2 separate regions of the Homo sapiens genome follow, and region 1 is linked to region 2. Evidence: fine-mapped expression QTL. A gene starts in region 2. The other region holds a variant in brackets. All regions are shown on one strand. Distances are from middle to middle.

Evidence for each region. PIP is the estimated chance that this variant, and not a neighbour inherited with it, causes the effect. A credible set is the group of variants that fine-mapping cannot tell apart.
Region 1: its variant is the best candidate, but not a certain one, in a credible set for the expression of MXI1 in atrial appendage (GTEx, PIP 0.72).

Annotation. Positions count from the first base shown.
Region 1 is chr10:110,279,817-110,285,193 of GRCh38, forward strand. It overlaps MXI1 (MAX interactor 1, dimerization protein), which reads left to right. Exons shown (of 6, transcript NM_130439.3): 5 at 98-269; 6 at 5,008-5,377. The coding sequence ends at 5,171. Among named protein-coding and RNA genes, the nearest start is that of SMNDC1, 22 kb to the right of the region's middle. The variant C/T (reference allele first, on the strand shown) is at 2,877.
Region 2 is chr10:110,204,287-110,209,663 of GRCh38, forward strand. MXI1 (MAX interactor 1, dimerization protein) reads left to right here and starts at 3,319. Exons shown (of 6, transcript NM_130439.3): 1 at 3,319-3,796. The coding sequence starts at 3,523. RefSeq lists an enhancer at 1,400-1,900 and a silencer at 3,490-3,569.

The sequences.
Region 1 (5,377 bases), 76 kb after region 2:
ATGTATATTCATTCATGTTTTCTCTGCTAAAGGAGGAATCAGTTTTATTGTTTGTACTGGACTATACACAAATGTAAAAATCATTTCATCATTTCAGAAACTTGAAGAAGCTGAAAGAAAAAGCCAGCACCAGCTCGAGAATTTGGAACGAGAACAGAGATTTTTAAAGTGGCGACTGGAACAGCTGCAGGGTCCTCAGGAGATGGAACGAATACGAATGGACAGCATTGGATCAACTATTTCTTCAGATCGTTCTGATTCAGAGCGAGGTAGGCAGCTTGCCTCTTCTCTAATGAAATACTAAACATCTCTGTATCTGGATTTAGGGAAGGTATGTTGGGAGGCACTGTATTTGCTTTCTTTCTAGCCAACAGAGTAACATTGTAGGTTTTATGCAATCATAATATTGTCTACAGCAGTGCCAGTGTGGACTATAAAACTTTTTGTTTTTTCCTTGAAAAAAAATATATTTATATATTTATATTATAAATTATATAATGTCCCTCAATTTAGGTTTGTCTGATGTTTTCAAATGATTAGATTGAGGGTATACAGTTGGGGTAAGGAATATCACAGAAATGATGTTGTGCCCGGTGGCTCATGCCTGTAATCCCAGCACTCTGGGAGGCCAAGGCGGGCAGATCACAAGGTCAGGAGATCGAGGCCATCCTGGCTAACATGGTAAAATCCTGTCTCTACTAAAAATACAAAAAATTAGACGGGCGTGGTGGCAGGCGCCTGTAGTCCTAGCTACTCGGGAGGCTGAGGCAGGAGAATGGCGTGAACCCGGGAGGCGGAGCTTGCAGTGAGCCGAGATCATGCCACTGCGCTCCAGCCTGGGCAACAGAGTGAGGTTCCGTCTCAAAAAAAAAAAAAAGAAAAGAAATGATGTTGTGCCTTTCTCAATCCATTGTGTCAGGAAGATACACGATGTCGAAGTTTTTACTACTGGTGATGTGAATTTTTATATGTAGATTTTAAAGTACAACACCCTTTATTTCTCTTTCCATCTATCCTAGAATATTTATCTTTGACAGAGTTAAAGAACAGAAGTCAACCAAAAAAGAATGGTTTGAATTTTACTGATTGTTCTTCCCAAAGCTTCCACCACATCAGGCTTCATATCACATTAAAAGATCCCAGAGGTGAACACTGGTGATTTGAAGTCTTACATTTGGAGAAAGGAGCTCATGAGCTCTTTAGGATTCTAAAACATGAGACAAGTGACAGAGTTTTTTTGTTTGTTTGTTTTTAGGACTCTGATTTTGTTTTTTGTTTTTGACTTTTTTAAGTGGAAATTTTCAAACATACTTAGAATAGAATAATGAACTCCTGTATACCCACCATTCAGTTTGAATAGCTGTCAACTTGTTTCATCTGTTCTTCACTACGCTCACCCTCAATATTTTTTCTGGAATGCTTTAACTCAAATCCCAGATAACATCATTTTGCCCCTAAATACTTTAGTATGTATCTTGAATAAATAGGATTTTTAAAAATGTAATTATAATGCTATTATAATACCCCACAAAATTAATTCAGATAATCTTTTTTAATATCATCTAATACCCAGTCTGTGATACATTTTCTCCAGTTGTCTCAAAAATGGCATTTTACCATTGGTATGTTTAAATCAGGATCCAAAGGCCACATTGCATTTGTTTGATGTGCCTTTTAAGATATTAATCTATAATAATTTTTTCTCTTCCCCCTACACCGTTTTGGTAGAAACAAAAACTGATTTCTACATAACATCTCAAAAAGACTTCTTTGGCAGAGAAAACATGAAGGAATATATAGGTATAGATCTGTGTGTTGTATATATGTACATATTTTTTTAAACATCAAGAGACTGAGTCATTTTTCTTATAGAATTTCCTACATCCTAGATTTGGCTGGTTGAATCCTCATGGTGTCATTTAACATGTTATGTCCTTTATATTGACTGTAAACTGGTTGGTAGATGCAGAATACTTCATAGGTGGTGCTTTGTACTTCCTGTTATGTCAGTATTGTGTGTAGTTGTTGTTGCACTTTTAATATTAATCAATAGGTTCAGGTAAGGTCATTTTAATACATTTATATAAATGTATAGCCTTTAACTTAACAGTTTTAGCAATTATTGCCCTTATTTCATTGGGTGTCATAAAATAGTGATTTTCTAATTGTGTCATTCCTCTTGTATTTATAAACTGTTTTTCTCCTATAAACATTTTCTCATCAACTTTTCGGTTATCCTGAAATAAAGTTCATACAGGGAAGGTGGGATAAATGCTTGGTCTTGGTTTTTGCTTTATCAGTTTTCCAAACAGAGTTGGTAACCTAGCAGCTTCCAGAAGTAACAAGTTTTGGTTTTACTATTTTTTGATTATATCATGAACTCATGTTTTGCTGTACTGAATGTGTTCCAATCCATTGCAGTCATCCTTTTAAATTCTTTTGAATGCTCAAACTGTCCCAGATTTGCTGAGTAGGAGCCTTTTAAATAGTTTTTTCATCCTTTTTAACGCAACCTTTTTAACACAACCCTAGGAGTTCTTGTTTTTCTGTTTTGTTATTTTTCTATGTAAAAGTTTATTTTTGTGTGGCAGTTTTCAAGAAAAGTCTACCAGAGGCAGTAGCAAGAACCTGAAGTACATGCTACATTTATCAGTAACAGTGAAATATAGCAGAAATAACCCTGACCTTGGTGTCCCAGTCTTTCCTCTATTGCTAACTAGCGGAAACCTCTTCTTAGGTCTTTAGGTTTTAGCTGTCCTTCCTGTTACCTCCTCCTTGTACCCACCCCAACTACCTCCAAATTTCAGAGAGGAGGGTGTATTTTCATCACTATAGCTCTCATTTTTTTTTAGTGTTCCCAGTGTACCTTACTTTAG[C/T]GGTACCTTACCAAGTACCATCCTTATCCTGAGCTGGCAACCTCCTTTTTGTAGTGTTATGGGGGCTTTTAGTTAACATCTGTGGTACACTTGGCTAAAGCAGTTTCTCATTTTACTTTGTTTTTTTGGGTTTTTAAAAAATTTTTTTAAACATATTTTTAAATTTTATTAAAATAGAGATGGGCCTTGTTGCCCAAGTGGTCTCAAACTCCTGGGCTCAAGCAATCCTCCTGCCTTGGCTTCCCAAAGTGCTGGGATTATAGGTGTGAGCCACTGTGTTGGCCATCATTTTACTTTATTTTGACTGAGTTCAGCATGCTCTTTTGGATAGTGTGCCTTGTTATTATCTTCTAGTTGTAGGTTGGATGAGTGTTCAGTGGTGCTGGGAAACAATGGCTTCTGAAGCAATTCGGATATAGAGCCAATATATGAATTCACAGATTATTTGGACAGCTGCCTACATTTTAAAAACATCTCTAGAATCTCTAAAACTTTTGAAGCAACAAGCCCTTTTGAAAAGTATATTCCTGGAAATAGCTTCACCCTGTCCTTTTGGCCTCACAAGAATCCACTTTTTTTTTTTTTTTGAGAGAGAGTGTCTCGCTCTGTCGCCTAGGCTGGAGTGCAGTGGCGTGATCTTGGCTCACTGCAACCTCTGCCTCCTAAGTTCAAGTGTTTCTGCTGCGTCAGCCTCCCAAGTAGCTGGGACTATAGGCGCGTGCCACCATGCCCAGCTAATTTTTCTATTTTTAGCCTAGACACGGGGTTTCACCATATTGGTCAGGCTGGTCTTGAACTCCTGACCTCGTGATCCACCTGCCTCAGCCTCCCAAAGTGCTTGGCCGCACCCGGCTGAATCCACTTTTTTTTTTTTTTTAAAGCAGTTGTGATTAGTGTGAACCCTTAAAAAGTCAGTGCCAAATGTGAAACATCAGGCTTTGAATTTAAGTAAGGTAACTGAAAAATCCTGGGTTTCACTCTAGCTCTGATGGGAGAAAACAACTTTTTAACTCCTTTTTGTTTTTAACATGTGTATTGATTTATGTATATTATTGATGATTGAATATCTAGTATTTAACAATTAAGATTTTTTTTTTTATTTTTAAGAGACAGGGTCTCACTCTGTCACACAGGCTGAAGTGCAGTGGTGAGACCTTGGCACACTGCAGCCTCAACCTCCTGGGCTCAAGAGTGATCCTCCCACCTTGGCCTCCCGAGTAGCTGGGACTACTGGATCACCCACTATACCCAGCTAATTTTTGTGTTGTTGTGTTTTTTTTGGTAGAAATGAGGTCTCACTTTGTTACCCAGGCTTGTCTCAAACTCCTGCACTCAAGTGATCTTCCTGCCTTAGCCTCCCAAAGTGCTGGGATTACGGACGTGAGCCACTGCGTCCAGCAACATTATCTATTGATAGCTGAGTCAAATATGTATTTGTGGTGTTTTTTTTTTTTAATGTTTGGCTTTTAAGTCTGTATACTACCACCAAAATGGATCTCACTATAATCTGAAGACTTTTAAGTCTCAGGCCCTTATTTCAAGCTATATTTGATGCAAGAAAATTAAATCTAAGACATATACCTCAAACTCTACTTTATAATGACTTGTTTGACTGACTAGTTGAAGATCTTTATGATGAATCCTAGAAGTCTGTTGAACTATCTGTAGAATGGCACCACCAAAGGCTTGGATGGGTAAATTTTCTAGTTTGCCTATATTAAGTTTATGCTCCTGCCCACCCTTTAAGGCAACCCTGATTAATAAACAGAACTGAGAATTAGTTTGTGGTTTAATGCAAAACAGATGTTTTTAAACCACTTGGGGGTTGGGACCTTTTAATATTAAGCACTAATTCCCAAATACGCCAAGTGCTTTAGGGAGGTCCAGACGGACTGGCGTCAAAGGATTTAGGAAATTTGCTGCCTAAATTAAGACCACCACTGTATATCAGACATTCCCCTTGGCAAAAAATATTCCTGTCTCTTCACCTTGTTCCTCTGTTCTCCAGACATCACTGATAATAAGCTTGTTGTGTAACATTTCTTATACCTCTTTTCCTCATGCTGTTAGTTTTTGAAGGTGCGCTATACTCGATAATTAATGTTCTTCTTTTTTTTTTTTCCTTTGGCAGAGGAGATTGAAGTGGATGTTGAAAGCACAGAGTTCTCCCATGGAGAAGTGGACAATATAAGTACCACCAGCATCAGTGACATTGATGACCACAGCAGCCTGCCGAGTATTGGGAGTGACGAGGGTTACTCCAGTGCCAGTGTCAAACTTTCATTCACTTCATAGAACCCAGCATGACATAACAGTGCAGGGCAAAATATTCACTGGGCCAATTCAATACAAACAATCTCTTAAATTGGGTTCATGATGCAGTCTCCTCTTTAAAACAAAACAAAACAAAACAAAACTATACTTGAACAAAAGGGTCAGAGGACCTGTATTTAAGCAAATACTTAGCAAAAAGTGGGGCAGAGCCTCCCAAGGAGAACAAA
Region 2 (5,377 bases):
AAAGAATCTGACTAGGACATTTTGGCAAGGTCCAAGGAGAAACTAGAGGGTGGACGAGTGACGGATTTAGGCAGAAAAGGCTGGTGAGTGGGGAATAGATGAGGCAGGAAGAGCAAGGCTAAGGAACCCAAGAGAGCCAAAATGGTCCATGACAGAGGGAAGAGCATCCCATCCCAATGCAAGGTGGGTAGGTTTCGATGGCAACGCATCCATCGCCTTCTCAGTAATTAACCAGCCTCTGTGTACATAAAGACATAATTATAGGCCAAACAACTCCTTTGATGTAAGAGTATAGAACGTCTGGGGGGAAAGGGGCAAATAAAAGAAAGAACAATCTTGCTTTAATATACAAACAAGGTCCATGGAAAGGTATTGCCAAACAAGCAAATAAGCCAAACAAACAAATGAACAGAGTGTTGGGAAAGCAGGACCCAGGCCGACTGGGCACCCAAGATATCCCGGGCCCTCTGAGAGCATTCTAGCTGACTTCATTGGGCATTTCTGCTTTTCTTTCAAAGAGTTCACATGTGTTCTCATCAGAATGGCTGTATTCACATCCCCTACCTGTTCTATGCAGAAATTCTCAGCATTTCCAAAGGGGCCTGTTTACTTCTGGAATCAAAACCCCAAAGAAAGGGGGGGTTGCAAAGGGTTTGAATGGCTCCTCCTGGGAAGCAAATCTAATCGGGAATGGAGCTGAGCTTGTAACCCAGCATCCTGGATGCCTGTCCTGTGATATAACCCCTGAAACACCACTCTTTCTGTTGGGGCCAACTTTATTAGAGAAATCTGTTAATTGGGGAACGGAGCGGGAGAAGGGAGAGAGCAATGGGATGTTAATATGATTTAACACTTGATGGGCTCTGAAAACAAATAAGGAGGGGGCTTCGGGCTTTAGCTTGGCACATTCGTCGTTCCACATACGTGTTACCAAAATGAATATATGCAACTAAACTATATGCGAGACTCTGGGGGCACAGTAACACAGACTTTGTGAAACAAAAAGGCATTTCTCCTGCTTCCACTGTGTCTCTTGTGGTGCCATTGTCTGATGCTAAGAACTCACATAATAACAAAAAACAATGCCCCTATGATGGGGGGAAAACTTGATTTGGCACCAGCCGTGGTGTTTTCCATGGGAATGATGGTGGGGGCTGTGGCCGACTGTGGGAATAGTGCAAATCAGCACTTTTTTGTAGATTTTCTTCAAGCCATTGTTTATTTTGGCTTTGGTCAGATCCGTGGCCCAGCTTGAAGATTCCCACTGGGCTTTCTGAAACTCGCAGACCTATGAGAGATGGAACAGGGATAAATAAATAATTACAAAACACCCTTCCCCCACCATGGCACTCATGCATGCGTGTGCCTGTCTTGGTGGTGCATGTATGTTGCAGTACTATACATCTGACCCATGCCACCAATGGGCAATTAAAGAGAAAGCAAGGTTTTCTCTGGGCTTAGCTGGTTCATTGTCTCAGTACCATCTTTCATTTGGGGCAAGAGAGATCAGAGCTGTTTCACACAAGGGCCAGTTTTTGCAAAATGGCATTGGAGAAAGCTTGTTTGAAACTGTGCATACATGAGGTCTTCCTAACATTTTTAGATGTTTACAGGCATTTCAACACGAATAACTCAGGTTGTGGTTCTCACAGAAGCAAAAAATCAGTAATTGTTCTAATAATGGAAGATAAACTTTTTTTTTTTTTTTTTTTGAGACGGAGTCTGGCTCTGTCGCCCAGGCTGGAGTGCAGTGGCGCTATCTCGGCTCACTACAAGCTCCGCCTCCCGGGTTCACGCCATTCTCCTGCCTCAGCCTCCGGAGTAGCTGGGATTACAGGCATGCGCCACCACGCCCGGCTAATTTTGTATTTTTGGTAGAGACAGCGTTTCTCTATGTTGGTCAGGCTGGTCGCGAACTCCCAACCTCAGGTGATCTGCCCGCTTTGGCCTCCCAAAGTGCTGGGATTACAGGCGTGAGCCACTGCGTCCGGCCATCAAGAGTTTTTATGACAATGTGTATGAAGCTGCCTTTGAGTAGGGTGGCTGCATCGCACACCTCCAGGGGGCAGCATTGTCTTTGTCCTCTATATAAATGGTTCCCCTGGAGGAAAACTCCAGGTGACCTTGCAAAGTAACCATATTTAGATGGGCTTGTCATAGAGATATTTTCCAAGGAAGTGCAGAAGAGTCTTGTTCACTACATCTTGTTCCTTTCTTAGATACAAGTTACATCAGAATAGGGGACTCAGGCTCTTGCCTGGGTCTGGATTGGAAGAAAAAGAGCTTACCATGGGCCAGAGTGTGCTAAGTCAGATACAATACACAAGCATCTTATCACACATTTCAATGATGTGGAAACTTAGGCCAAGAGAGGTTAAGGGACTTGTCCAAGCTCACACAGTCTGTATGCAGCAGAGCTGGGATTTGAACCCTTTCCTATGGCACCCTAGAGCAGCCTTCAATCATCCCCTGACACCTCCAGTACTTCCCAGGGCTGGAAAGCATCCATGATTGCGGACAGCAGTGGCAGTGAAACAATGTCAGCTGGGGTAGGGGTTTTCAGAGGCAAAAGGTGGAATTCAGCTGGGGAGGGGGGTGGTTCCTGAGCTGCCACTTCTGCCTCTCAAATTAAAGGGAGCCAGGTGTGGAGGCATCCTGGTGTGAGCTTTGCACAGCTGAACCAAGGCTGGGCAGAGGAGTGTGGAGAGGGATGCTGACATCTCCTCCCACTTCTGGAAAATAACTTTGCATTTGAAGGGAGAAAGGCATGAGTAAATCTGTAACTCGGATTTGGACGGCCTGGGATTTCATTTGACTGTGTGAAGGCACACACAGGTGCCTCGCAAGTGTGTGCGTGATTACGTATGTATGTGTGTCTGTGAGTAGGAGTGTTTGTGTTGGGGGTGGGGGGATCTTCTGGTTACACACTGGTTCCCTTCTTCCCATTTGGATTGGGGAGCTTTTATTTATTTATTTTTAAGTCATAGCAGCCACCATGTATGGGGACCTAACTATGTGCCAGGCATTGTGCTGGACACTTTCTGAGGCATTATTTTTCTGTGAAAAAAGTAGTTTGTTTTTATGCAGGTGCACCCAGAGACATCAGGTATTTTTTTCCATTCCGGTTAAAAGACAGTGTTCTACTCTGTGGTAAGCCTTGGGGAGAGGCAGGGAAGCCTGCGGGGACGGGCAGGGGCGGTCCCTGCCTCGCTCGCTAGTCTCCACCTTTTATTTTGACCGGTCCGATGGCGACAGGCTCGCACTAGGACCCAGGCGCCAGAGTGCCTCCGTCTGTCCTGTAGGTTCATTCAATCTCCCATACACACAGACTCACAGCGAGACCGACACACACTCCCATACACTCACACACACAACTGCAGGCAGCGAGGCTCGGGAAGTCAGGCCGGCTTTTCGCCCCGGCGCCTTCTCTGCTCCAGCCGGCCGGGTCTCCCTGGGGGCCCGGAGCTCGGCCGGGCCGCGCAGCCCCGTTAGAGGACGAGCTCGGCGGACCCCCGCTCCTCCATGGGCAAACGCGGGCGGCCGCGCAAGGAGGCGCGCTGCGAGGGCGCGGGGCTGGCCCCCGCCGCGCCCCCGGCTGTGCCCCCCGCCGTGGCCGCGCCCCAGCCCCCGGCCCTGCCCGAGGACCCCGCTGGGGCCAAGCCCAGGTGCCCCTTCTCAGACATTTTCAACACCAGCGAGAACTCGATGGAGAAGCACATCAACACTTTTCTGCAGAACGTGCAGATTCTGCTCGAGGCCGCCAGCTACCTGGAGCAGATCGAGAAAGAAAACAAAAGTAAGTTTGGGGGCCCCTGCTCTTCCTCGGCGCCCGGTTCTTTCTTTCTCGCCCACTTGGGCGACCCCTGTTGCGAGCTCGGCCCGTCCCCCCCCCGCCCAACATACACATCCAGCCCTTGGCAGTAAAGCCGATGACACCGGAGAAAGGACACGCACGCACAAAGCTGCTAAAGATGTAACAAAGACGGGCGAGGGGGAGAGGGGCCTGTCGGTGCGTCGGTCTGTCCTCTCCGGCGGGCTGGGGCTGGGAGGATGGCCCAGCGGAGGAGCGGGGGAGTGTTGTTGTTTGCTGACAACTGAGCCGAGAGCTCATCTCTTTGAGGTCGCTTTTCTTCCTTTTTTTTTTTTTTTTTTCCGGAGCCTTCTCAGGCAGACAAGTGTTGTTTTTCTGTTGCTCGTTCCTGGGTGGGGTGGGGATTAGAAGCCGAAAGTTGGAAACCATAGGCAGAGCTCAGAGGTTCCAGAAAGAAAACACACAGACACACACTACAACAATAACAACCAAACAGCTCTCCACGGCGTGGGCTCGGCTCTGTCTCTCTCTCTCCCTCCTACTTCGCCTTTTTCCTTCCCTCTAGCAGCAGGACTGGGCTCAGGCCATCACGTCTACGGACACAGTCCCCCTGCACGTCCGTTGCCGTGGGGTGCCACCGCCGCCCCCCCCCCCCCAAAGAAGGAGGCCGGCGGGGCCAAGCAACGCCAGCAGCTCGCCCCGGACACGCCGTCCTGAGCCCGGGAAACTTGGCCGTGGGGACGCGGCTAGAAGGAAACTTTGGGATCTTTGAGAAACAATAGTTGGGGAAGAAGGTGTGGGCTGTTCTGTGCTTTTTCTTTATTTTCCGGGAGACGGCTCTTGAGTGAGCGCACAGGGCAAGCAAGGCAAACGCCTTCCTGGTCGATTTCTACTCCCCCCACCCGCCCACCCCCAGATTCACGTGGATAGTAGTGCGTGGGTGGGGGTGTGCTGGGAACCCCACCCTGGCCTGGCTTCTTTTTTGTATTTATTTGTTTCATTTTTGCCCCTACCAGCCAGGTCACCCAGCTTTCCCCAGGCAGTCGACTCAGCGCCCTAACGGGGGCACGCGTGTGCAGCGTATCCAGCACCGTCCTCAGAATAATAGCTGTGAAAAGGAGGAAGGGAACTAGGCAGACAGACCGACAGATAGGGGGAAACCGGGATGTTTAATGTGTCCGAACAAGTAGGAAGATCAATGAGGCGCGAGTGTGTGTGTGTACGTGTGCGCGTGTGTGTGTGAGAGAGAGAGAAAGAAAGAAGAAAGGTCCCGATTGCAACGTGTCAGATCTTGCAACCTTCCCCCCACCCAACACAACAACCCTCAGACACAAAAACACCATTGCTGACTGATACCCCAGGTCTTCAGGGTTAAAGGAACCGTGTGTTGGCAGCGCAATTGTGCAGACGCTGTAAGGCCAAAACGAGGATTTGTGTTGTGAGGTCGGTGGTGCGTTCTTTTCTTTCTCTTCTCGCCTGTTTTCCCGGAGTGCCTGGGTTGCGAGAAAGGCGCATCGCAGGCTGTGCAGCCGAATCGCTTCGCAATTATTCATGCTGGTCGGAGGG